Homo sapiens: one gene and its partners. The protein of the gene in region 6 purifies or fractionates together with the protein of the main gene of each other region. This does not show direct contact. Each region holds a gene or a part of one and is shown on either strand. Other genes may lie near its edges.

What was found.
Region 1: the proteins of PRG3 (region 6) and COL6A1 purify together in Homo sapiens (co-immunoprecipitation; 2 studies listed by BioGRID and IntAct, with this or other methods). This does not show direct contact.
Region 2: the proteins of PRG3 (region 6) and FBN2 purify together in Homo sapiens (affinity purification with mass spectrometry; 2 studies listed by BioGRID and IntAct, with this or other methods). This does not show direct contact.
Region 3: the proteins of PRG3 (region 6) and MAEA purify together in Homo sapiens (co-immunoprecipitation; 3 studies listed by BioGRID and IntAct, with this or other methods). This does not show direct contact.
Region 4: the proteins of PRG3 (region 6) and ZNF324 purify together in Homo sapiens (affinity purification with mass spectrometry; 2 studies listed by BioGRID and IntAct, with this or other methods). This does not show direct contact.
Region 5: the proteins of PRG3 (region 6) and RMND5B purify together in Homo sapiens (affinity purification with mass spectrometry; 2 studies listed by BioGRID and IntAct, with this or other methods). This does not show direct contact.
Region 7: the proteins of PRG3 (region 6) and TUBB3 purify together in Homo sapiens (affinity purification with mass spectrometry; 2 studies listed by BioGRID and IntAct, with this or other methods). This does not show direct contact.

Annotation. Positions count from the first base shown.
Region 1 is NC_000021.9:45,995,270-45,998,769, forward strand, and holds part of COL6A1 (collagen alpha-1(VI) chain precursor), read left to right. Parts: intron 1-2,151; coding exon 2,152-2,214; intron 2,215-2,430; coding exon 2,431-2,493; intron 2,494-2,851; coding exon 2,852-2,902; intron 2,903-3,128; coding exon 3,129-3,164; intron 3,165-3,500. UniProt on the Homo sapiens protein: Collagen VI acts as a cell-binding protein.
Region 2 is NC_000005.10:128,304,246-128,307,745, reverse strand, and holds part of FBN2 (fibrillin-2 precursor), read left to right. Parts: intron 1-542; coding exon 543-611; intron 612-1,797; coding exon 1,798-1,923; intron 1,924-2,109; coding exon 2,110-2,235; intron 2,236-2,663; coding exon 2,664-2,789; intron 2,790-3,500.
Region 3 is NC_000004.12:1,320,891-1,324,390, reverse strand, and holds part of MAEA (E3 ubiquitin-protein transferase MAEA), read right to left. Parts: intron 2,011-3,500; coding exon 1,888-2,010; intron 1-1,887.
Region 4 is NC_000019.10:58,470,080-58,473,007, reverse strand, and holds part of ZNF324 (zinc finger protein 324A), read right to left. Parts: intron 2,278-2,928; coding exon 854-2,277; 3' UTR 1-853. UniProt on the Homo sapiens protein: May be involved in transcriptional regulation. May be involved in regulation of cell proliferation.
Region 5 is NC_000005.10:178,141,014-178,144,513, forward strand, and holds part of RMND5B (E3 ubiquitin-protein transferase RMND5B), read left to right. Parts: intron 1-1,569; coding exon 1,570-1,715; intron 1,716-1,838; coding exon 1,839-1,979; intron 1,980-2,613; coding exon 2,614-2,714; intron 2,715-2,928; coding exon 2,929-3,095; intron 3,096-3,500. UniProt on the Homo sapiens protein: Core component of the CTLH E3 ubiquitin-protein ligase complex that selectively accepts ubiquitin from UBE2H and mediates ubiquitination and subsequent proteasomal degradation of the transcription factor HBP1.
Region 6 is NC_000011.10:57,378,351-57,382,555, reverse strand, and holds the start of PRG3 (proteoglycan 3 precursor), read left to right. Parts: upstream 1-1,405; 5' UTR 1,406-1,442; intron 1,443-1,774; 5' UTR 1,775-1,847; coding exon 1,848-1,908; intron 1,909-2,748; coding exon 2,749-3,062; intron 3,063-3,743; coding exon 3,744-3,875; intron 3,876-4,205. UniProt on the Homo sapiens protein: Possesses similar cytotoxic and cytostimulatory activities to PRG2/MBP. In vitro, stimulates neutrophil superoxide production and IL8 release, and histamine and leukotriene C4 release from basophils.
Region 7 is NC_000016.10:89,929,842-89,933,341, forward strand, and holds part of TUBB3 (tubulin beta-3 chain), read left to right. Parts: intron 1-2,729; coding exon 2,730-2,838; intron 2,839-3,500. UniProt on the Homo sapiens protein: Tubulin is the major constituent of microtubules, protein filaments consisting of alpha- and beta-tubulin heterodimers. Microtubules grow by the addition of GTP-tubulin dimers to the microtubule end, where a stabilizing cap forms.

The DNA of each region.
Region 1 (3,500 bases), on a different chromosome or scaffold from region 6:
GTGCACGGCCTCAGTCTCTGATCCTCTTTGCTCTTTGAGCTCCCGGGGCTCCAGCCCTGAGGATGATCTGACCTCCCATGTGGTCACCCAGGACAGGGCCAGGTGCAGGGCACAGTGCGTGGAAGAGGCCATGCAGCCAGTGGCAGATTGTGGGGAGGGGACGGCCCAGGGCCACGTTCCAGGCTTGGGAGGCTGCTCCAGACCTTGGTAGCTGAAAGTCTCAGTGGGAATGAGCGTTCAGAGGCCAGGACTTGCTCGGAGAATTCTAACCACACCCTGCCTGTTTTATATGTTCAGTTTTCAAAGTAATCAATAGCCACTATAAGAAAAAAACAAAGCCACTTTCAAAGGGTTGTGGTAAGAGGCAGTCCTGTGAGCAGGCCGGCTGCAGGGCCTCCAGGGCTGTGGGGCAGGCTGCACAGGGGCTGGTGGGTCCCATGCCTGGGGGTCTGGGAATAGTCTCTAGGCTGCTGTCCTGGAGGAGGTTTCCCCCAACGCCTGAGACCAGGGCACCATGTGACCCATGACTCACAGTTGCCTGGCTGAGGCAGGCACTTGTTCACCTGGAGCCTCCCTGGGGCCTTTCGGGGCCCGGGGGTGTGGATAGGTGGCTTTGGAGCCACATTTGTCCATCGGGACGTTGGGCTCCCAGCTGGCCTTCCGGGCTTTCCCTGCTCCCAGAACCTCCCTGCTCAGCCCTTGCCAGCCTTACCCCTCCCCTCCACCCTGCCCAGCATGGGGCTCTCCCTGTGTGGATGCCAGAAGCAGTTGGGCCCTCAGGGCTGGTCCCAGGAGGTGCCCCCAGTGAGGTGCTCTGCAGAAACTGCCCAGTCTGGCCTCCTGCTGTCTGTGGCACAGTCTGACTGTGTGTGGTGAGGTCCAGGCCTTCTGCCTCCCACTTACCTGGCCCAGGGCACAGAGACCTCCTTTCCATCCTTCCTCCTGGCCCCCTTTTCGTGTTCCCAAGGCAGGATCTCAGGGTACCAGACTAACCCCTGTTGAACCCCAAGTTTGGTGAGCTTCTGGACCTCCTTGAGGCCCGTGTGCAAAGTCCCCAGTCAAGTGTGCAGTCCTGACTGCTGGGGCGTTGACCACGAAGGGTGCAGGAGCTTCACAGCCAGGCCTGGGTGCTTGCACAGTCGGGGTAGAGAGAGCAATACACTAGATGCCTCCTGTCTGCCTGGTGGAGGCCACGGGGTCAGGATGGTGAATGGGCCAAGTCTGGTAGTGGGGAAGTTGTAAACATTTGAACCACCGGACAGGCCTCATCGGGAAGCATCAGCCTAACCACAGGCCAGGGACAGGCGTCTGAGCAGGCACAGGCCAGGGACAGGCGTCCGACCAGGCTCATGGCTGGGGCCAGGTGGGCCAGGTGGGCCAGGTGGGCCGGGCGATGTGTACACGGCTCCCTTCTTGGCTCAGCTGGGCGCGCTGGGAAGTGCTTGGGGTGCCTGGGCTAGACTCCGAAGGGCAGGGACTCGCCGCTGGAGTTGTCCACGGAGCAGGCCCTCAAAGGTGGGAGCTGGGGCCAGCTCTGGAAATAGACCCCCACAGGGTCCTCATGAGATGTGGGGGACCCAAGGAAGTCCAGCAGGCAGCCTCAGGTGCAGGTGGGGGCAGGGTGGTGTCCAGGCTCAGCCCACAGAGGGTCCTGCGGTTGGGGGTGGGCTAAGGGGACCAGGCCAGGCCCAAAGGGGACCATGAGGGAGGGCAGTCTGGGGCCACTCTGATAGGAGAAGGGGCAGGTGGTCTGCGGCCTGGGGACCTGTAGCCTCACCCCTCCGTGGGGACCTGAGGCACCAGCCGGGCACTCACCGAAGTCATCTGGGACAGGCTTCACCCTTCCGTGGGGGCCTGAGGCACCAGCCGGGCGCCCACCAAAGTCATCTGGGAGAGGCTTCACCCCTCCGTGGGGGCCTGAGGCACCAGCTGGGCGCCCACCGAAGGGCTTCAACACTTGTGCCCAGGCCCTTCGTGCAGGCCCTTCGTCAGACCCAAGAGTGGGCCTGGCTCTCCCCCTGCACTGATGGGACTGGGGCCAGAGCCTGGGGGCCCTGATGCCTCTTGGTCTGAGACCCTCAGCTTAGGGTCAGGGAGGGCTCAGGCTGGGTGAGGCCTGTGGTCCAACGTGCCATATCCATCTCTCTACAGGGCGAGGCTGGCCCTATCGGACCTAAAGGCTACCGAGGCGATGAGGGTCCCCCAGGGTCCGAGGTGAGTCCCACTCCCCACCCACACCCGCCCACCCAGGGGGGCCTGAGGATCCAGAACCCACTGTCTGCCCAGTGCTGGCCCCGTGCCCTCTGAGGACTCTATGGCCCTGGGTGTCCTGGCTCCCGATGGGACCTCTCCCGGCCCCAGGAGGGCCCTGCTTCCCTCCAAGGTCACCATGCTAAGCCTGCTCCCCTCACGCCTCCTCTTCCTCCTCAGGGTGCCAGAGGAGCCCCAGGACCTGCCGGACCCCCTGGAGACCCGGGGCTGATGGGTGAAAGGGTGAGTGTCCAACAGCTCGGGCCCTAGGGCGGAGGCCTGGCCGCCAGAGGCCCTGGGAAGCCCCAGCCCCGCACTGTGGAGCTGCCTGGGGTCCCTGACCGGGCCGGGAGTGCCCGCAGCATCACTGGCTCCTGGCCACAGTCGGCACCTGAGCCAGAGGCCGCCTCGGCAGGGCCCCTCCTGCCCCGAGATCCGGGTCCCAGGGTCCACGGGGACCAGCAGGGTGGCCCCAGGGGAGGGAGCCGGCTTCTGGGCTGACGGAGGGGCCCTGCGGGTGAGGTGCTCCCGGGCCTGTGCCAGCCAGTGGGTATCCCAGGCCAGGCCGATTCGCACGGTGACGGCTACTCTGCTCCCCCAGGGAGAAGACGGCCCCGCTGGAAATGGCACCGAGGGCTTCCCCGGCTTCCCCGTAAGTGTCCGGAGGCTGAGCCCACAGGAACATGCCCAAGCTGCCTGCGGCGCCCTCTTTAGTGGACTGGGCACTCTTGGGTGGGCGGGCTGGCCCCAGGACCGCCGGCTGGCCCAGGAATTCCATGGCCGGGATTCTGTCAGCTCAGGCCCTTCCGCTGTGCGCCCCTCACAGCCTCCCCTCTCAAATCAGAACCCGGTATCACTGCCCTGCTTTTCCATGACAGGGGTATCCGGGCAACAGGGGCGCTCCCGGGATAAACGTGAGTACGCCCCCTCCTCCATCTGGCTGTGGGCACACAAACATTCACAGTCACAGGGACACGCACGTGTGAACACACATGTGCACACAGGCTCCCGAGCAAACACACGGGGTACACAGGCACCCACGGCTGCCCCACTGTCTGTGGCCACAGCCCCAGTTGGCATCGGCTCCTGCAGGCCCTGCGAGGCTCCCACTGTGGTGTGGCCTGTGGGTCTCCTCACGGCCCTGACTGCCCGGTGACCGATCTCCCCTCGGTGCGCAGGGCAGGCCCAGCCCCAGAGGCCGCCCCACGGCTCTCTAGGCCACTCCGGGACCCAGTTTCTCCAGCCCAGGA
Region 2 (3,500 bases), on a different chromosome or scaffold from region 6:
TATTTTATTTCATAATGCATTGTTTTTGATGACTCAAATTTCACATTCCAATAGACACAGTAAAAAAAAAAAAGACAAAATTCGCATCTCATTCATTATACATTGTTTACCTATTTCCCCTCTACAACATTATTTTTGCATGTCTATACCTTTGTGCAATCTGTAATTCCTTTTTCAATTTGTACTTCTCTTTTTTTTTAATCTTTATGTATTGGATGTTTTTTAAAGCTCTGCATATTAAAAGAAAAAGTATTTAAATATCTAAATGGACATTTTGAATCTTATAATGATTTACTTGCCTTCTGATATCAGAGCAGTAAAAAGTTAATGAGAGTAATAGAAATAACAATGATAATAATGGTAAAGAATGCCTAGATCCACTCCTAGCAGAAGCTGGCATTGCTATCAAATAAATATAATTGAAATCAAAATGTCTGGTTGTGAATAATGTAAAATATATTTGTTTGTGAAAGTAATACAAAATGTTATTTTGAAGGAATTTGAGAAATTTAAGAGTGCATTGCTTTGTTTATATTTTAAAGCTGACTTTAAAACCATATGTGGAAATATTCCTGGATTCACCTTTGACATTCACACAGGAAAAGCTGTTGGTGAGTTTTTCCAGATTATGTTTGTTTTAATACATATGTGTAGCATTCTGTAAAAATCTATTCTATGTTTTTAAAATTCAAGAGTACCACAAAATATAATAATCTGGGATCCAATCTAATATAGTTAGATAAGAGAGAAATAACAGGCTTACAGACTCTAACCAAGTATTAATAATGATACTCCATCAGCGTAGTCTGGTGATTGGGTTATGGTAGTTATGTGACTCTCTCGATATTTGTCACATCCACCAAGCTAAAGCTTCAGTTGTCCTTGTCATGCACATTGTATTACATGACTCTAAATAATCTACCTTATTTTAACCTTTAGTTGCTATTTTCTTAAGTACATTTTTTAATTTTTGGTGTATTTTTGCAGTATCCCTTTTTACTGGTCTAAATATGAATGTGCAGACTTATTTTTCATATTAATTAATTCCTTCTAAATGTACATTGTGTTGCTCACTCTAGCTTCCTTCCTCAAAGATTTGATAAGCAATATAATTTTTTTTTTTGAGATGGAGTTTTGCTCTTGTTGCCCAGGCTGGAGTGCAATGGCGCGATCTCAGCTCACTGTAACCTCTGTCTCCTAGGTTCAAGTGATTCTCCTGCCTCAGCCTCCTGAGTAGCTGGGATTACAGGCACCCACCACCACACCCGGCTAATTTTTTGTATTTTTAGTAGAGATGGAAGTTTCACCATGTTGGTCAGGCTGGTCTAGAACTCCTGACCTCAGGTGATCCACCCTCCTCAGCCTCCCAAAGTGCTGGGATTACAGGCGTGAGCCACCACACCTGGCCTAAGCAATATAATTTTAAGTCTCCATTATGAATATATGATAAAATAAAATACATACAATGATGAAAACATAGCTTTTTAAACAAATGAATAGCAGCACTTAGGGTAACCTGAAGAAGGGGTTTGATTGCCTAGAAAGTTCATTTGCTATATTGACTCTGAAATTACTTGGTATATTTTATCAGCTACTTAGATTTTTTCCATCACTGTTTCTATTTTCTGGTATATATGTTTTTATAAACCAAAAAAATTAGCTATACTAGTATATAATAGATTTTTGTGACACTGAATATTTGTACTCATCCCAGGGTACATGTAGCATTATTCAAAGTTATATGGTAAGTATATTAAACAGAACAACATATATTTGACCAAATCTGTTCCATTTCAGACATTGATGAATGTAAAGAGATTCCAGGCATTTGTGCAAATGGTGTGTGCATTAACCAGATTGGCAGTTTCCGCTGTGAATGCCCTACAGGATTCAGTTACAATGACCTGCTGTTGGTTTGTGAAGGTAATCTGAATAAAGTATGTCCTTTATCCAGTATAATTTGGTATACATATATAGCATTTAGATGGTTTCTGATTTTTACTATTTCTTCTACAATTTTTCAAGAGTTGATCATCAAAGTGTGACGTGAATGTAATGCTAATACAATACTAAAAAGGACTCTTTAAAATGGAATTGTTGCTCTTTCAGATATAGATGAGTGCAGCAATGGTGATAATCTCTGCCAGCGGAATGCAGACTGCATCAATAGTCCTGGTAGTTACCGCTGTGAATGTGCCGCGGGTTTCAAACTTTCACCCAATGGGGCCTGTGTAGGTAAGAAAGAGGCTGACTCATTCTTTGGCACTGAGCACAAGATTCCTTAGATTTCCTATCAAAAAATACTTCAAGAATAATTTGGGAAAGATTTTCTCACTTAACCTGTTCATTTATAGTGAACCTATTTCACCATATCTTTTAGATGATTTTGTTAAGAAAATAGATCTCTTCAATGGATTTCCCCAGGATTGGACCTAAAATAAAATAATATCCTTCAGATACCAATAAACATAAAAAAATTTGCATGATTAAAAAAAGAGGGTTGGATACTTTGAAGTCCTGCTCATTTTGATTCAGCTGTTGTTATGGTTCATTTTCAGCCTGCCTATAATAATTAATAGCAGATTAGAGAAACACAACTGTGAAAAATGAAGAAATCTTAATAAAAATCAGATACATGTAACATTTATTTTTTTCTGTTTTAGATCGCAATGAATGTTTAGAAATTCCTAACGTTTGCAGTCATGGCTTGTGTGTTGATCTGCAAGGAAGTTACCAGTGCATCTGCCACAATGGCTTTAAGGCTTCTCAGGACCAGACCATGTGCATGGGTAAGAAGGGCATGTGGCTCCAGGGAGTGAAGTGGGGCTGGGGTTCCAGAACAGATCACAGTTCCATCAAGTGCCATGAGTAACTACTATGTCTCTGTCAGAAACAATCTTGCAAAAAATTAACTAGGTCAAACTATTTAAGTCTTGATTCAATATAAAATTTGCAAGCAGGGACATACTGCAATATATAAAATTTGCAAGCAGGGACATACTGCGATATGTTCGTCAGTTCAGTGATTCACAGCTTTTTCTCCAGAAGATGTTCACATGGCTTGACAAGAAAAAACCCTCTGAGCCACTTGGGCTTGTGTGGAACTTACCATAGCACCCGCTGCCCTTTACTTTCATGTTTCTACTCAAGACACCATTTTGGAATGCAAGAGAGTAGTAAGAGTGACAGCATTAAACTTAATAAATTTATACACATATGCACATACTTTTTTAAAACAAATTGTTGAATAGTGGGATTTATGTACATATTTTGTGTTTTATCCCTTAAAAATAGCTTTAGGAGCAAATATAGCCAAACTCTTTAAAAATTCCCAGTAGCTAATGTAATGGGTAGCCAAGTGGTAATAGAGCTTAGTGAGTACTTGCTGAGCTGATGATTAATAGGTTTTCAAAGACAGATGGGCTGGATGCCATGAAGCTGGGACTGAGTATAACCCCTTAAGTCTGATGTCAGCAGTTGGCTCTGCCTCTGCTGAAGAG
Region 3 (3,500 bases), on a different chromosome or scaffold from region 6:
TCCAACCTCAACTTCATCCAACACCAGACACACTCGTCCACCAGGCATCCAATCTCAACTTCATCCAAACCAATCTCAACTTCATCCAACACCAGACACACTCATCCACCAGGCATCCAATCTCAACTCATCCAACACCAGACACGCTCATCCACCAGGCATCCAATCTCAACTCATCCAACGCCAGGCACACTCATTGACCAGGCATCCAATCTCAACTTCATCCAACACCAGACATACTCATCCACCAGGCATCCAATCTCAACTTCATCCAATACCAGGCACACTCATCCACCAGGCATCCAATCTCAACTCCATCCAACACCAGACACACTGATCCACCAGGCATCCAATCTCAACTTCATCCAACACCAAGCACGCTCATCCAATCTCAACTCATCCAACACAAGGCATGCTCACCCAATCTCAACTTATCCAACACCAGGCACGCTCATCCACCAGGCATCCAATCTCAACTTCATCCAACACCAGGCACACTCGTCCCCCAGGCATGCATTCAGGGCCCCGAGTCCTGGCCCTGCCTGTCCCCACAGCAGCTTCAGACAGGTCGTGTGCTCGTGGCAAGCCTCCAACACCCTCCAGCAACACTGTCCGGCAGGTAATTAGGGCTTGCAGGAATATCCTGGCAGCACCAAGAACCTATCTTCCCTCTGACATCCACAGGAAACAGCCCTGGCAGAGTTCCCACTGTGAGGTGTGTGCCGGCTCTCTGGGAGGGAGTGTGGGGCTGGCACTGTGTAGTGGGGCCGCAGGTTACATACCAATTCTGGCTTTCCTTTTAGGGTTTCCATACCAAGGTCCAAACTCTCTTTAGGGGAGCTACTAGCCGCTCTACTTTTTCGTCCCGTCTTTGCTTCGTGCTTGTTTTGGCGGCCCTGAGTGGCAGTGTGTCACTCCTGGCTGGTAACTGCGTGCACCCTGCCAAACTCAGCCAGGGTGAGGTTAAAGCAGCGCTCAGTTTAGAAGACAGAAAAGTTTTGCTAATGGAGGCAGAAGTGTTAACATAAGTTAAAACATTTCTGCAAGCCCCTAGGGTGACAATGCCTTTTAATAAGCAGGTTTAAATTTTGTCCTTTAGGAGTCCATTTCTTAAGCTTCTTTTGGTCTCTACAAAAGTCGGTACTCGGCCGGGCACGGTGGCTCACGCCTGTAATCCCAGCACTTTGGGAGGTTGAGGCAGGTGGATCACAAGGTCAGGAGATCAAGACCATCCTGGCCAACGTGGTGAAATCCCATGTCTACTAAAAATACAAAAATTAGCCGGGCATGGTGGCGCATGCCTATAATCCCAGCTACTCAGGAGGCCAAGGCAAGAGAATCGCTTGAACACCGGAGGCAAGTGAGCCAAGATCGTGCCACTGCACTCCACCCTGGCGACAAAGCGAGACTCCGTCTCAAAAAAAAAAAAAAAAAAAAAAAAAAAAAAGTGGGTATTCATTAACAATATCACAGCCCAGAGCTCTGCAGCCTCGCAGATGGAGAATGACTTCCCAACCAGCTTTTCTGTGTCTATGACTGAGCACAGGGAGCCCATGGAGTACCCCCATGGAGCAGGACTGACCTGTCTCCAGGCTCTAAGCCCAGCAGCCCCAACACTCTGTGTGCACATGGTCAGCCTCCTGTAACCCACTCCTTCTGAGCCTCATGCCAGCTGTACACAAACTGTAATGCCAAATGAGGTGCACTTTTCCAGATTTTAGCCTAAAAGTGTAACACAGCCACCAAAAAAACTCCCAAACCCAACCCCCACCTTACAAACCAAAACCAAACTACTGTGAACCACCAGGCAAGGGGGTGCTGGCTCCAGGGCAGGTGGCGCAGCCTCGGCCCCGACCCACTCCCACCCCAACCTGGGAGTCCGTGCACCTTCATCTTCCGGAGCCGGGACTTGTTGTCATGGCACCAGGCCAGGCAGGTGGCCGTCTCACGCCTCTCCAGGGACTCCTCCACCTCTTTGGCCGTCAGGAACATCTCAATATTCACTAGGTCCTTAGAGGAAGGAAGCAGCACCTGATCAGAATGTGCTGGCTCAAGGCCCCCATGCCACCCTCCCACACCCCAGCCTCCATGAGGCAGGCCCAGCACCGGCCACCACTCGAGATGCATCTCCAGTCCACACTGTGGGTCTGCACTCGTGGACTACTCAGGGCCGCTCTGAGATCCTAGGAACAGAACAGCCCCCAAGGACCAAAAGGTCGGACGCTCACGTAGACAGCAGCCATAGCCGGGCAAGGGAGCCAGGCTGGCCCCACCTGTCCATGGAGAGGAGCTGCTGAGACACACATGCAGGCAGGGCCAGGCCACATGCCAGGCGGCCCTGTCTCCACTCCCCACAGCCCCCCAGCACATCTACAGGCCCTCCCTGGGCAGCCCCCTCATTTCAAAATCAACAGTAAGCAAATAATAACATGCTAAATAATACATAAACACATTATGGCTAATATCGCGGTAGTTACAACCAATGATTTATATGAAAGCAAAGAAAAAAAAAAAAAACAACAAAAAAAACAGAGTAACCCAGGCTTAGCATCAAGTCTCCGCTAGTGGCCGGGCACAGGGGGTGGGTGCTCAGTGCCTAGCAGTGGAACCCATGGTCTCTGGCAGGGGCAGGACAGCAGCTGGTACGGGACTCCACCAGGCACGGCAAGGCTTGGGGCAAGCGCTCAGGTGGTCCTCAGCAGCAATGACTCCCGACCTTCCCCAGTGGGACCAAGGACGGCACCTCCGCCTGCACATAGCCCAGGACCCAACGGCCCAGGATGAGGCCACAGTTCACCACTTGGGTCCCACAGCCCCACGTCTGGACCACCGGCCTCACAGATGCGCTGTTTTCTTTGATGATTACTCTTTTCTGAAACCCCTCATAACGTTGTTTTCTTGCACCTTTTCTTTCATGATTTCTTGTTTCTGAAACCCCTTCATAGCATTTTCTTGCATGTTTGCTTTGATGATTTCTCTTTTCTGAAACCCCTCACAGTGTTGTTTCCTTGCATCTTTTCTTTAACGGTTTCTCGTTTCTGAAACCCCTTCATAGCGTTTTCTTGCATGTTTGCTTTGATGATATCTTTTTTAAAGCCCCTTCATAGCGTTTTCTTGCACGTTTGCTTTGATGATTTCTTTTCTGAAGCCCCTTCATAGCGTTTTCTTGCACATTTGCTTTGATGATTTCTTTTCTGAAGCCCCTTCATAGCGTTTTCTTGCATGTTGATTATTCTTTTCTGAAGCCCCTTCAAAGCATTTTCTTGCATGTGTGCTTTTGTTTGTTTTTTTGAGACGGAGTCTCGCTCTGCCGCCCAGGCTGGAGTGCAGTGGCGCAATCTCCACTCACTGCAAGCTCCGCCTCCTGGGTTCACACCATTCTCCTGCCTTGGCCTCCCGGGTAGCTGGGACTACAGGCGCCTGCCACCACGCCCGGCTAAATTTTTGTATTTTTAGTAGAGACAGGGTTTCACCGTGTTAGCCAGGATGGTCTCGATCTC
Region 4 (2,928 bases), on a different chromosome or scaffold from region 6:
CGAGTGCCACCGGAAAGCCATCATCCTAGCTCTGTCCTTCCAATGCTGAGAGTCACATGTTCCCCCATGGGCATCCCTCTCCTGAGTCGGCTATGTGTGTGAAGCCAGGCCAGGCCGTGTGCCTCAGTTTCCTCATCTTCCAAGTCGGGATACCAGCCACAGAGCCATCTCACAGGGCTTCAGGAGAAACTTCCCAGTACTCAGGACAGGAGCTGGCAGTGAGCATGTGTTGGCTCTCATTAGGACCCCACCTGTCAGCGTCTACAAACATGATGTTCAGTGGACCCAAACCTTTTCTCTTTCCCAGAGGTGGCGGCTGACAGAGCCCAGACCCTGATCCCCAGTCCCTTGTGGTCTCTTGTCTGCTAGGCTGGCCCCTAGGAAGTCTTGGATGAACAGAGGCAGTGGGTTGAGGGGAGAATACCCTCAGCGGGCATCTCTCCAGCGGCCAGTTTGTGTACAGCTGTCATAAGTTTCTCTGGGCCACCCCCAACCCATGCCTGCATCCCTCTCACCTTAGCATCCACTGTCATATCACATGAAGCCGCACCACAGTGCAGTGCTGTGACTGTCGGCCTCCTACTGGCTCTGAATAGTCTCGGCCCCACTAGAGTTCAGCCACCACGTCCTCCCCCTGATGTTGCTGCAGTGCTACCTCTTTGGGGATGGAGGTGTGATCTGTGGGTGAACTGGCAAATCCTGTCCCCACGTGCAAATGAAATCACAGCCAAAGGGCCTCCCTTGTCCCTGACTAGCAAGCACGGGACTTTTTCTCTGCTGTGGATCTGCAGAGGACATATGCCCTTTAGCTGTGGAAGGGATTCACAGAAGGCCAGGGCTGCAACCTGTGACCTCAGACCTCCGCTGGCTGCGAGACGGCGGCTGGGCCCGAGGCGGGAGTGGGCTCGGTTTCCTTCGCTGGCGCACCTTCTGATGATGCCCCGGCAACAGACCTGGCCTGGGGGTGCAGGCTGGCCCTGGATCGCCGGACGGTCTTCTCGCCGGTATGGATCCTCTGGTGGTGGAAGAGGGCCGGGCGCTCACGGAAGGCGCGGCCACACTGCGTACACACGAAGGGCTTCTCGCCCGTGTGAATGCGCCGGTGGCTGAGCAGCACGGCGCCCTTGGCGAAGGCCTTGCCACAGTCCACGCAGCGGAAGGGCCGCTCGCCCGTGTGCAGGAGCTGGTGCTGGGTGAGGTTGGAGCTGTGGCTAAAGGCGCGGCCGCACTGTGGGCAGGCGAAGGGCTTCTCGCCTGTGTGCACGCGCTGGTGCTTAAAGAGCGAGGAGCCCTGGCTGAAGGCAGCACCGCAGAGCGCGCACACGAAGGGCTTCTCGCCTGTGTGCGTACGCTCGTGCTGGATCAGGTGCGAGTTGCGGCAGAAGCGGCGGCCACACTGTGCGCAAGCATAAGGACGCCCACCCGCGTGGATCTTGCGGTGCTGGCTGAGGTTGGAGCCGTGGCTGAAGGCCTTGCCGCACTCGGAGCAGCGGAAGGACTTCTCGGCCGTGTGGATGCGCTGGTGCCGCACCAGCGAGGAGCTATGCCGGAAGGCCTTGCCGCACACGGGGCACGCGTAGGGCGTCTCGCCGCTGTGGATGCGCTGGTGCTGCGTCAAGTGCGACGTCTGGCTGAAGGCCTTGCCGCACTGGGCGCACTCGTAGGGCCGCTCCCCGGTGTGGGTGCGTAGGTGCTTGAGGAGGTCGGAGCTCTTCACGAACACTTTGCTGCACGCCCTGCATTCGAAGGACTTCTCCCCAGCGTGAAGAGCCTCGCCCAGCTCGTCCCAGGTCGAGGGCTCCTGGCCACCGAGGAGTCTATGAGGCTCCTGCCAAACTGCACCCATTCGGTGATGTCCCCGACCGCCGGCAGCCTCCAGGTCCTGGGCGCTCCCAAAGGTTCTCCCAGGGACCTCCTGTGCACATGGTTTCTGCCGCTCAGGCGTCCTGGGCTGCCTCCCCAGCAACGCATGCTCTGTGAGTGTCTTTTCTCTAAGCCGGACGCCCTCGGGAGGCCTAAGCGGGGAGGTCAGTCGCAGGCTGACGCTGGCTTGCCCACTGCCTGAGCCTAGCAGGAGCCTCTCCCAGTAGATCACCGACACCCCCGTGGGTTTTCTCTCCCGAGATGGGGAGGCACCCCGTTGTCTCTGCAGGCTTTTTACACTGTGGCAGGCACCGGCAACAGGGAAGACGCTAGTAGTCATCCCAGGTGGGGTATCTGGGAAAGCTCGTGGCCATTCTCCAGAAACATCTCTATCCTCTGTCAAACTCCAGGAACCTAAAGGCAGAGAAACAGTGGTTGCCTGGGGCATCCTGGTTAGGAGAGGACCAGGGCAGGCTGAGTGGACAGGCAAGAAGGAACCCCGGAGCTGGCACAAAAGCTTAGGGGAAAAGTAGAGGTGAGGCTGGCCCTGCAGGAGGGGCTGGGGTTTGGAGGAACAATCTGCCCTGATAGGTATGGCACTGACTACACTGGGCACTCCCATGATCAAGGTGGCAGCCCCCCGACACCCAGGATGTGAAGCTGAGGAAAACTAGCGGCTGCTGTATGCTGCATACATCTCCACACTGGCTATTCCACCCACACTCTTTCCATTGCTTACCCCCTTCCCCCCGCCCCTGTCCCCCTTCTCAGGCACCCACTCCCCAACCTGCTCCTGCAATGACCTCCATCCAGTGCTCTAGACTATACTCCTGAATCCTGCTTACCGACTGCCTCTCCCACCACACCATGAGCCCCAGAAAAGCAGGACCAGGGTCGTCCTGATTGAGGCTGTGTCTACATTGCCTGGACTGGGCCTGACCACTGTGAGCACTCAGGAAATGTTTGCTGAACACAAAGATGAAGGGTGAAAAAAATGACCCATCAATTATGGCAGTGACTAGCCATGGAGGGTTTGAGGCCAGCCCAGCTGATAGCAGGACTCTG
Region 5 (3,500 bases), on a different chromosome or scaffold from region 6:
TCAACTGAAAAGAAGCTTTCCCTTCTCCTTTCATTATTATCACTTCACACTCATATTCTTATTTTATTCAATAGGTTATAATCCATTGCAGTTATTTAATGTTCAAATTGTCTTAGGTCTGACCAGAGGGAGTCCCTGGTTCCTATGTCTTTTTTAAAAATTGAGCTATAATTCACTTACCATTAAACTCACTCTTTTAAAGTACTCTGTCCAGGTGCAGTGGCTCATGCCTGTAATCCCAGCACTTTGGGAGGCTGAGGCAGGTGGATCACCTAAGGTCAGGAGTTCGAGACCAGCCTGGCCAACATGGTGAAACCCTGTCTGTACTAAAAAATACAAAAATTAGCTGGGCGTGGTGTCATGTACCTGTAATCCCAGCTACTCAAGAGGCTGAGGCAGGAGAATCGCTTGAACCCAGGAGGCAGAGGTTGCAGTGAGCCAAGATTAAGTCACTGCACTCCAGCCTGGGTGACAGAGCAAGACTCTGTATCAAAATAAATAAATAAAGTACAACTCTGGATGGGCATGGTGGCTTATGTCTGTAATCCCAGCACTTTGGGAACTTGAGGCGGGTAGATTGCTTGAGTCCGGGAGTTTGAGACCAGTCTGGGTAATATGGTAACCCTGTCTACCAAAAATACAGGTATTAGCCAGTCTCATAACTCGGTCTCAAAATAAATAAATACATACATACATAGATGAAAATTTAAAAAATAAAGTCCAACTCAGCGGTTTTCAGCATATTTACAGAGTTGTACAATCTTCACCACTATCTAATTTCAGAACATTTTCATCACCCCCAAAAGAAACCTAACCCATTGACTGTCTCTCCATTTCCTCCCTCTCCCTAGCCTCTGGCAACCACTAATCTCTTTTTTGTCTCTATAGATTTGCCTATTTTGGACAGTTCATATACAAGGAATCATACCACATGTAGCCTTTTGTGTCCGGCTTCTTTGATTAATAGAATGTTTTCAAGGCTCATCTATGCTGTAGCCTGTATCAGCACTTCATTCCTTTCTATGGCTGAATAATAGTCCACTGTAGGGATGTGCCATGTTTTTCCACTAGCTGATGGACATTTGGGTTGTTTCCACCTTCTGGCTATTATAAATATTGCTGCTATAAATATTCACTTACAAGTTTTTGTGTGGACATATGTTTTTATTTCTTCTGGTATATCCTTCGGAGTGGAACTGCTGGATCAGGTGGTAACTCTAGGTCTAACCTGGCAGTTAAACAGAATCCTATGCATGCTGTAGTCCATGAGTTGAAATAAACACTTGACCCATAGTAAGTGCCAGATCATCTTCATTTCACAGCAACCAGTAATTTCACAGATGAGGAAATGAAGGCTCCCAGAGGTGAACTGGCTTTTCCCATTTGAGCAGTTCCAAGTCAGACAGTTAAAAAGTGGCAGGACCTGGAAGAGAAGCTAGTTCTTTCACCCTGGCATTCAGGGCTGCCTCCTGGGCTACGGGGCTGGCATTTAGAATAGAGCTAAGGTCTGCTGCCAAGGCAGGTGCCCCAGTCTGCCTCCTCTGTGTCCTTATTCCACTTTCTCTGCAGCCCTCCAGGGGACCCCTCTCTCAGCCACCCTCTCTCTGGTGATGTCACAGTGCTGCCGGAAGATCAAAGATACGGTGCAGAAACTGGCTTCGGACCATAAGGACATTCACAGCAGTGTATCCCGAGTGGGCAAAGCCATTGACAGGGTGAGCACGTGGCCGGCTCCAGGCGTGGGGTGGGAGCACCCTGAAGCTGGGATGTACAAGGACTCGAAGGAGAGCCAGCAAGAGTGCCCGCATCACCAGGCCCTGTCTCTCCTCCTTCGTCAGAACTTCGACTCTGAGATCTGTGGTGTTGTGTCAGATGCGGTGTGGGACGCGCGGGAACAGCAGCAGCAGATCCTGCAGATGGCCATCGTGGAACACCTGTATCAGCAGGGCATGCTCAGCGTGGCCGAGGAGCTGTGCCAGGTACAGTCGGGCTGGGCGGGCGCAACAACCTGCCTGCTCTGCCTTTCACCTGCTAGTTTTCACTGTATGAAGTCCCTACCATTCTCAAATCCATTTATTTCCTAAAGGAAATCAGCACCTCTGCCAGAAGCAGAAGGTAGCTTTAAAAACATATATGATGAAAAGAGAAGTTACTCATTTTTAGTTAGAGTTGGTTGCCAGCCAGGGCTCTGAGCTGAGGCCTCATATCCCTTTATTGAAAAGGGAGCTGAGTGAAATGACAAAGTAGTACTTGTTAGGTGTTAAAGACACACTGGTGGTAAAAGTAAAAGATTTTCCCTACTGTACTAGGAGGATTGAAGAGGAGTAATTTTCTCGCCATGCAACTCAGTGCGTAGCCTGGGGACTGTCTCCACTGCTACGGTTGTGGGGTGGGGTCTGCAGTCTGCACTCGAGGTCAGCATGTCATACTCAGCCTCCCCAGGACTGAGATGGGAACAAGAGAGGCCCAAGTGGCTGGCAGGAGACCAAGCTCCTCAAGCAAAGCCCAGCTCTCTGGCCTGTCTTTGGCGGGTGAGCTTTTATTATGTGCATAGCAGAGAACTTTGGAAACACCATCTTCCAGTGGTGGGATCTCTTCTCTCTCTCCTTGTAGGAATCAACGCTGAATGTGGACTTGGATTTCAAGCAGCCTTTCCTAGAGTTGAATCGAATCCTGGAAGCCCTGCACGAACAAGACCTGGGTCCTGCGTTGGAGTAAGGAGGCCCTTGGGTGGGCCAGCAGCATTCTGCTTCGACCTCTCAGGGCACAGGGCTTGACTGTGGTCTTCATTTCACCCAGATGTACTTGACTTGCCTGCAGCCCTGTCTCAAGAGCCTCACACAGGCTTTTGGGGCCCTCCTCTCAGGTGCTGGCTCTCAGGTCCTAGCCCCCACCAGCTCTACACTAAACTGGCCCCTTTCTTCCCAGATGGGCCGTCTCCCACAGGCAGCGCCTGCTGGAACTCAACAGCTCCCTGGAGTTCAAGCTGCACCGACTGCACTTCATCCGCCTCTTGGCAGGAGGCCCCGCGAAGCAGCTGGAGGCCCTCAGCTATGCTCGGCACTTCCAGCCCTTTGCTCGGCTGCACCAGCGGGGTGAGTGCCCAGGCAGCTGGGGTTGTGCTGCCTGGCCTGACACATGTCTGGATGTGGTAGGTTACATCAGGCTGCCAGTCCCTGCACCCATGTGGGGCTGTCTGTTACACAGATGCCTCTCCCCAACTAGAAACTTCTCTGACCCCTCGTGTCCAGGATGAACTCTAGACTCCTCCTCTCTCACATCTGCCATACCTTTAGTTTATAGCTTCAGCGCAGACCACCCAGGGTCCTCGTGCCTGCTATGCGCCACACCACACTCATTTAGAGCATGCCATGCCCGTCCCACCTGTTCTGCCTCGTATGCCTCCCTGACCTGTGTGGCCTATGGAAAAGTCCTTTAAGAAAAAAAAAAAGGCCAGGCACGGTGGCTCACGCCTGTAATCCCAATATTTTGGGAGGCCG
Region 6 (4,205 bases):
TGAAGCTATGCCTTGAGGTTGGGCAAGGTGGCATATCCTAGATCAGAGATCCTCAACTGGGGCCATTTTTCTCCCCAGAGGACATTTGGAAACATGTGGAGACATTTTTGATCATCTGCGGGGGTGGGGAGAGGGGCTACTGACATCTGGTGAGTAGAGACCAGAGGGACCATTAAACTTTCTACAACGCCCAGGACAGCCCCTCCACAATAAAGAGTTATTTGACCTCACATATTAATAGCACAAAGTTGAGGAACCTTGATCTAGATCCACAGCACAGAAGAAAGGATGTAGATTTTTCACACATTAAAGATGAGAAAGCTTGTGCCTGTAATCCCTGTGACTCAGGAGGCTGTGGCAGGAGGATTACTTGAGCCCAGGAATTCAGGGTTACAGTGAACTATCATCGCAGCACTGCACTCCAGCCTGGGTGACAGAGCAAGATTTTGTCTCTTAAAAAAAAAAAAGATGAGGACAGGCACAGTGGCTCATGCCTGTAATCCCAGCATTTTGGGAGGCCGAAGTGGGTGGATCACGAGGTCAGGAGTTCAAGACCAGCCTGGCCAGCATAGTGAAACCCCATCTCTACTAAAAATACAAAAAATTAGCCAGCTACTTGGGAGGCTGAGGCAGGAGAAGCGCTTGAACCCGGGAGGTGGAGCTTGCAGTGAGCCAAAATCTTGCCATTGCACTCCAGCCTGGGCGACAGAGCAAGACTCCGTCTCAAAAAGAAAAAAAAAAAAGATGAGAAAGAGGAAGGGAGAGAAAAAAGAGAGAGAGGAAAGAAAGAGAGAAGGTTTTGGAGTCAAAAAGACTTAGAAATTCCAGTTCTTCCACTTCCCATGGAACCTTGGCAAGTTGCCTTCTCTCTTTCTCTGAATCTCACATTTTGCCTCTGTGAAGTAGGGGTGGTACCTGGTGGAGATGATGCGGAGATGAGGGTGAGGGGTGTGTTGCACACTATGCCCCTAGGATGGGTGAGAGCTTGGGAGCACTGAACCTCCCTTTCCCCTCTTGTTTCTTCCCCCCATTGTCTCCCACCAGCTCCCTGGGATCTCCACTTCACTCTCTGGGATTCCACCAGCAGGAGGCTACTCCTGGAGTTAAGGCGTGTTGTTCAGACTGGGGCATTTTAGGGGGCATAAATAATAATTATGCCTGGACAATGGACATAACATCTAGGGCCTTCTGAAGCAAACCAGGGTGTGGGGTACCCAAACAAGGCAGTAGGCCCCAGGAGGCAGGTCCCTGCAGTCCCAGCAGAGAGCAGGGCACAGGGTTGAGAAGACTGAGCAAACTTCATTATCAGCTCCTTTGTCCCCCACTCTGTCCTGGAGCAATCATTCTGGCCTCTTCCCACTTCCCCAAAAACCCAGTATAAAGGCTGCTTCTGGCCCCTGAAGCCAGAGGCACTGAGAGTGGAGGTCTCAGACTCTTGGAAGGTGAGTTCTTTTCTGGCTGCCCAGGCAGGACCAGTGTAGGCCCTGGGAAGAAGCAGCACCTCATAGGGCAAACACGTAGGAGGCCTGTCCTTAGGAACATCATAGCTAAGCAGACCTGTCCCCGCAGGGGCAGGAGTCTGGGCTAAGGGTGATACTGGAGAGCAGCAACGGAGACTGGAAGACAAATGAAATTTGGTACCTGAGTTATCCCTCCCACCATTCCTTTTCTAGACTCTCCAGCTCAGGGTCTGTTCATGGCAAGAGGAGAAAGCAATCTTGTTTGCTCTTTAATCAAACAATTAAACAAATATTCCCTCTATACTATGTGCCAGGGGCTATACTAGACACACAAAGACAGCCCCAAGAAGGACGGTGGAGTAGTGTCCTCGCTAAAAGACAGTAGATATGCAATGCCTCTTGCTCCTGCCCTTTCTCCTGCTGGGAACAGTTTCTGCTCTTCATCTGGGTAAGTCTCTCCCTTCCCTCCTCATGCGTCTTTCCCTTTTTTCCTTTTTCCTACACTCCCCTCCCCCCGCTTTTATTTGCACTCATGAGGCCAGGACCACAGCCTTCCCTCTTTAGCTGATACAGCTCATCTCCGGTAAGATATCACTTGGACTCAGAACTGTAACCTGGAACTTTCTCTTTTTTGTTTGATTTTTTTTTGTTGTTGTTGTTTTTGTTTTTTTTTTTGTTTGTTTTTTGTTTTGTTTTGAGACGGAGTCTCGCTCTGTTGCCCAGGCTGGAGTGCAGTGGCGCGATCTCGGCTCACCACAAACTCCGCCTCCCGGGTTCAAGCAATTCTTCTGCCTCAGCCTCCTGAGTAGCTGGGACTACAGGCACATGCCACCACGCCTGGCTAATCTTTGTATTTTTAGTAGAGATGGGGTTTCACCATATTTGCCAGGCTGGTCTCAAACTCCTAACCTTGTGATTCGCCCGCCCCGGCCTCCCAAAGTGCTGGGATTACAGGCGTGAGCCACCGCACCCGGCAAACTGTAACCTGAACTTTCAGAAGGAAAAACCACCCACCTGTTAAGATGAAGGGCTGGTGACTGCCCCAGGCTTCTCACACGTGCTTTCTCCCACCTTCAAAACACACACTCGTGGTGTCGGCCAGAAGTCAGGTTCTTGTCCATTTGTGGGTGTGACCCGAGAGATCTCTCCTTACCTAACACCAAGGAAATCCTCCAGTCTTGTCTTCAGGTGGAATTCCTAGGAAAGCTCGAGCGACGTTGCTGGAGCTGTCCACGGTGCTGGAACTAGGAAGCTCTTGACCTGATGGCAGGTTACCTCTTCTTCCCAGAGAATGATGCCCCCCATCTGGAGAGCCTAGAGACACAGGCAGACCTAGGCCAGGATCTGGATAGTTCAAAGGAGCAGGAGAGAGACTTGGCTCTGACGGAGGAGGTGATTCAGGCAGAGGGAGAGGAGGTCAAGGCTTCTGCCTGTCAAGACAACTTTGAGGATGAGGAAGCCATGGAGTCGGACCCAGCTGCCTTAGACAAGGACTTCCAGTGCCCCAGGGAAGAAGACATTGTTGAAGTGCAGGGAAGTCCAAGGTGCAAGATCTGCCGCTACCTATTGGTGCGGACTCCTAAAACTTTTGCAGAAGCTCAGGTAAGTAGTAGGGAGGCTACTGCGGAGGACCTGGGGGAAAAGAGAGTACATTCAGTCTTCTGTTCCCTATTCATTTAGGCTAGTGGTTCTCAAAGCCTCGCATGCATCAGAATCACCTGGAGTTGTTGTTAAAACACAGCTTTCTGGGCCTCACCTGCACGACTTCTGATTTAGGAGGGCTGAGGTGAAGCCTGAGAATTTGCATTTACAACAAATCCCCAGGTGATGATGATATTGTTGGTCTGGGGAGAACCACCGATTTAAACAAAAGGCTTTGGTGTTAGAAACGCCTGTGTTAAATTCTGGTTCTGCCTTTTATTAGCTGTGTTACCTGGGCAAGTTGCTTTGCCTTTCAAAGCTTTAGCACCTTCATTTGTAAAACGAAGATATATAGCACCAACTTCTTAGAGTTGTGGTGAGCATTAAATGAGATAATACATGAAAAGTGTTTGGAATAGTCACTGGGCTGTAATAAACTCTCAATAAGCGGTGGTTATAATTATTATGAGTATTATCATTTCCTGTAGGATTGTCCTGACAGCTAATTAAGAAGCAAAAGATAGGATTAAGGGAGGCAAGTAGGTTTATTTTTAACCTGAAAAGGGATGCCGGGCTCTTGCCTGGAGACTCAGAAACTTGAAATAAATGAGAGGGAATTCTCTACTTTGTTTCCGTCTGCAGAATGTCTGCAGCAGATGCTACGGAGGCAACCTTGTCTCTATCCATGACTTCAACTTCAACTATCGCATTCAGTGCTGCACTAGCACAGTCAACCAAGCCCAGGTCTGGATTGGAGGCAACCTCAGGGGCTGGGTAAGTCAGGGGCCAAATCTTGGGTGCAGTAAGTTCTTTCTGAATGTGTTAAAGTAGCATCTGATGGTGCCAAGCCTCAGGCCAGCAGCTAAGGTTTCCTTAATGTGGCAGGCAATGATGTGCTGGAGATGGCTTGTACTGGCTCAGGAGAACTGATGGTGCACATCTCTTACCAACTCCATGCTCAGTGACTACATGCTTGCAGCTTGACATCAGCCATGGTGGGAGTATTTACACAAAGGAAATAGGCAATTGCTACACATCAGGGCTCCTTTCTACTCCCCATCCTCCCACCCACCCCAAGAGCTGGTATAAACATTTACCAGCATA
Region 7 (3,500 bases), on a different chromosome or scaffold from region 6:
AGGTGCTCGCCACCACGCCTGGCTAATTTTTGTATTTTTAGTAGAGACAGGGTTTTGCCATGTTGGCCAGGCTGGTCTTGAACTCCTGACCTCAGATGATCCACTGCCTCAGCCTCCCAAAGTACTGGGATTACAGGCGTGAGCCACCGTGCCTGGCACAAGCAGTTTTCTCCCCTTCCTTCCTTCCTTCCTTCCTTCCTTCCTTCCTTCCTTCCTTCCTCTCTCTCTCTCTTTCCTTTCTTTCTTCCTTCATTCCTTCCTTCCTTCCTTCCTTCCTTTCTTTCTGACAGTCTCGCACTATTGCCCAGGCTGGAGTGCAGTGGCGCGATCTCGACTCACCACAACCTCTGCCTCCTGGGTTCAAGCAATTCTCCTGCCTCAGCCTCTCGAGTAGCTGGGAGTACAGGTGCGCGCCACCATGCCTGGCTAATTTTTGTATTTTTGGGAGAGATGGAGTTTCACTATGTTGGCCAGGCTGGTCTCGAACTCCTGACCTCGTGACCCACCCGCCTCTGCCTCCCAAAGTGCAGGGATTATGGGGGTGAGCCACCGTGCCCAGCTATGAGTGGTTTTGTTTCTATTTATTTATTATTATTCTATGAGACAGAGTCTCACTCTGTCGCCCACGCTGGAGTACAGTGGTGCAATCTTGGCTTACTGCAACCTCCGTCTCCTGGGTTCAAGCAATTCTTCTGCCTCAGCTTCCGGAGTAGCTGGAACGTGTGAGCCACCACCCCTGGCTAATTTTTGTATTTTTAGTAGAGACAGGCTGGTCTCGAACTCCTGACTTCCGGTGATCTGCCCACCTCAGCCTCCCAAATTGTTGGTATTACAGGCGTGAGCCACCGCACCTGGCCTCTATTTATTTATTTATTTTGAGATGGGGTCTTGATATGAATTCCTAGACTCATGCTTCTCATGCTTGCTACCACCCAGTCCTGCCTCCTGCACAGCAGTTTCCACTAAAGTCACCCCTTTACGAGAGGCATCTTTTTTTTTTTTTTGAGATGGTGTCTCACTCTGTCGCCCAGGCTGGAGTGCAATGGCATGATCTCAGCTCACTGCAAGCTCCACCTCCTGGGTTCAAGTGATTCTCCTGCTTCAGCCTCCCGAGTAGCTGGGACTACAGGCACCCGCCACCATTCCCGGCTAATTTTTTGTATCTTTAGTAGAGACGGGGTTTCACCATGTTAGCCAGGATGGTCTCGATCTCCTGACTTCGTGATCCACCCGCCTCGGCCTCCCAAAGTGTTGGGATTACAGGCATGAGCCACTGTACCTGGCCTACTAGAGGCATCTTAAAACACATCTCCTGTGTCTCCATTCCAAAGCGCATCTTTGTCTACACTCCTGGGGTCCTCCCACGTCAGCCTCCCAAAGTGCTGGGATTACAGTCATGAGCCACTGTGCCCGGCCCCACCAAATTGTTTTCTAACCTGCTTTTTTCTTGAGGAATCTTCTGCAGCACATGACTCACATGTAGAGCCCCTTGTTTCTTGAGGCCTTCATACCCGTCAGCTCATCTAAAAGTCACTCCTGAGGAGTAAGGGCAAGGGGCATTGGGAGAGGTCAGGCAGCCCTGGGAAGCCTCCCAGCGTGTGTCCCAGGAGGCCTGCTGCCTGCAGACACTGCTCCCAGACGCAGCGGCCTCGGCCATCAGAGCGTGTCCCACGATGAGGTGGCAACTTCCCTGAAGGGCTTGCTCTCACCCAGGGGTGTGGTTCTCCGTGTGCACACAGATAGATAGTTCTACGTTTGCCATATACCATTTATATGCCTCACACAGATTAACCCACTTTCATTTCAAAAAGACCTCCTGTCATCGTGCCCATTGTACAGATGAGGACACTGAGACACGGAATCCTAGTGACCTGTGCAAGGTCACACAGCTGGGAAGGGTGAGGGAAGCGTCTGTGAACCCAGCAGGCCCAGCCCCTGAGTCTAGGCTCCGCTCGGCAGCTGTCATGGGAGCAGAGTCCGAGAAGCACTGCAGGCACCTGCTCTAGGGGGAGAGAGGTGGAGGTGGCAGGTAGAGAGAGGACGACCCCTGGGAGCTGAGACGATGCCAGCCTCACACGGACAGGCTGGGTGACCTCAGGCAAGTCGCTTCCCATTTGGGACCCCAAGGACCCTTCTGCAGACCCAGCTGGGGGTCCCCGATGAGACTGGCTCTCAGAGTCCCTGTGAGTCCCGTCAGCTGAGGCCAGTAATGTCCTGGCACCATCACTGGACATGGTTTGCTCTCCCATGGAGGGGCAGGTGTAGCAGCCAAAAGCGATCCTGAGCTCTGGGCCTCTGAACCCTGCTCTGCCAGCTACTGTGGGTGTCTCTACCCGCTCTGTGTCTCAGTTCCCTTTCCTGAAAAGAGGGGATAGTAAAAACTAACCCTCAAGGTGTTTATTACCAATGCCCTTCATGGAGGAATCCGCTGCTCCAGGCCCTTGCCAGCAGCTGCACAGCTGGGCCTGGGGACCTGGGTGTGGGTCTGTTGAACCTTGGCCCACCCTGGGGCTGTGGTCGGCCTGGACGTGTAGGTGTGGAGGTGCATATTTATTATGGCAATTTTCTGACAGGTAACAGAGTGTGGGGCTCTCTTCTGAATGGGGCTCGTGGAGGCCGTGGGTCAAAAGCCCTAATTTTGTAGTGAGGGCTAAAAGGCTTCACAAGGGAAAGGGCCTGGCTGGGGCTATGGGCCGGTGCCGACCCCCCCTCTCCCACTTTGTTTGCAGTTCTGGGAAGTCATCAGTGATGAGCATGGCATCGACCCCAGCGGCAACTACGTGGGCGACTCGGACTTGCAGCTGGAGCGGATCAGCGTCTACTACAACGAGGCCTCTTGTGAGTGCCTGCCCCAGCCTCCCTATCCCAGCCCTGGACTGACCAGGTCTCAGCGTCTGACTGACCAGGTCTCAGCACCTGGACTCACCAGCTCTCAGCATCTCTGTCCTCCCATGGGTTAGGTTGGCTGAGATGCCAGCAGGCGTAACTGGATGTCAGGCATCCAGACGCACAGAACAGACAATAAATCACAGTCACAAAAGTGAGAGCCAAACATATTAGTGCCATGAGGGCCTGTGCGTGTCCAGGGGCACAGACAGGGATGGGGCAGGCCAGAGACTTTGGAGGCCATAAGAGGGCCTAGAGAAGGGGTCACCTGGAGGGCTTAGTCAGGGGCTCTTTAGCAACTGGTGTGAAGTGATTTCCATATCAAAGTGGTGATACACCCACCTGCCCACATGGACATGTGATTTAAAATTTTATTTAATTTAATAGAGACAGTCTCGATATGTTGCCCAGGCTGGTCTCGAACTCCTGGACTCAAGCGATCCACCTGCCTTGGCCTCCCAAAGTGTTGGGAGTGCAGACACGAGCCCCTGCATCTGGTGGACGTCTGACTGAATCCTGCCTGTCCTGCTCCGTCCTGTCCTGCTCCGTCCTTAAACACAGTGAGGCTTAAGGGTGAAGAAAGTTGCTGAAGCTTGCCTTTGGTCCAGGACTCT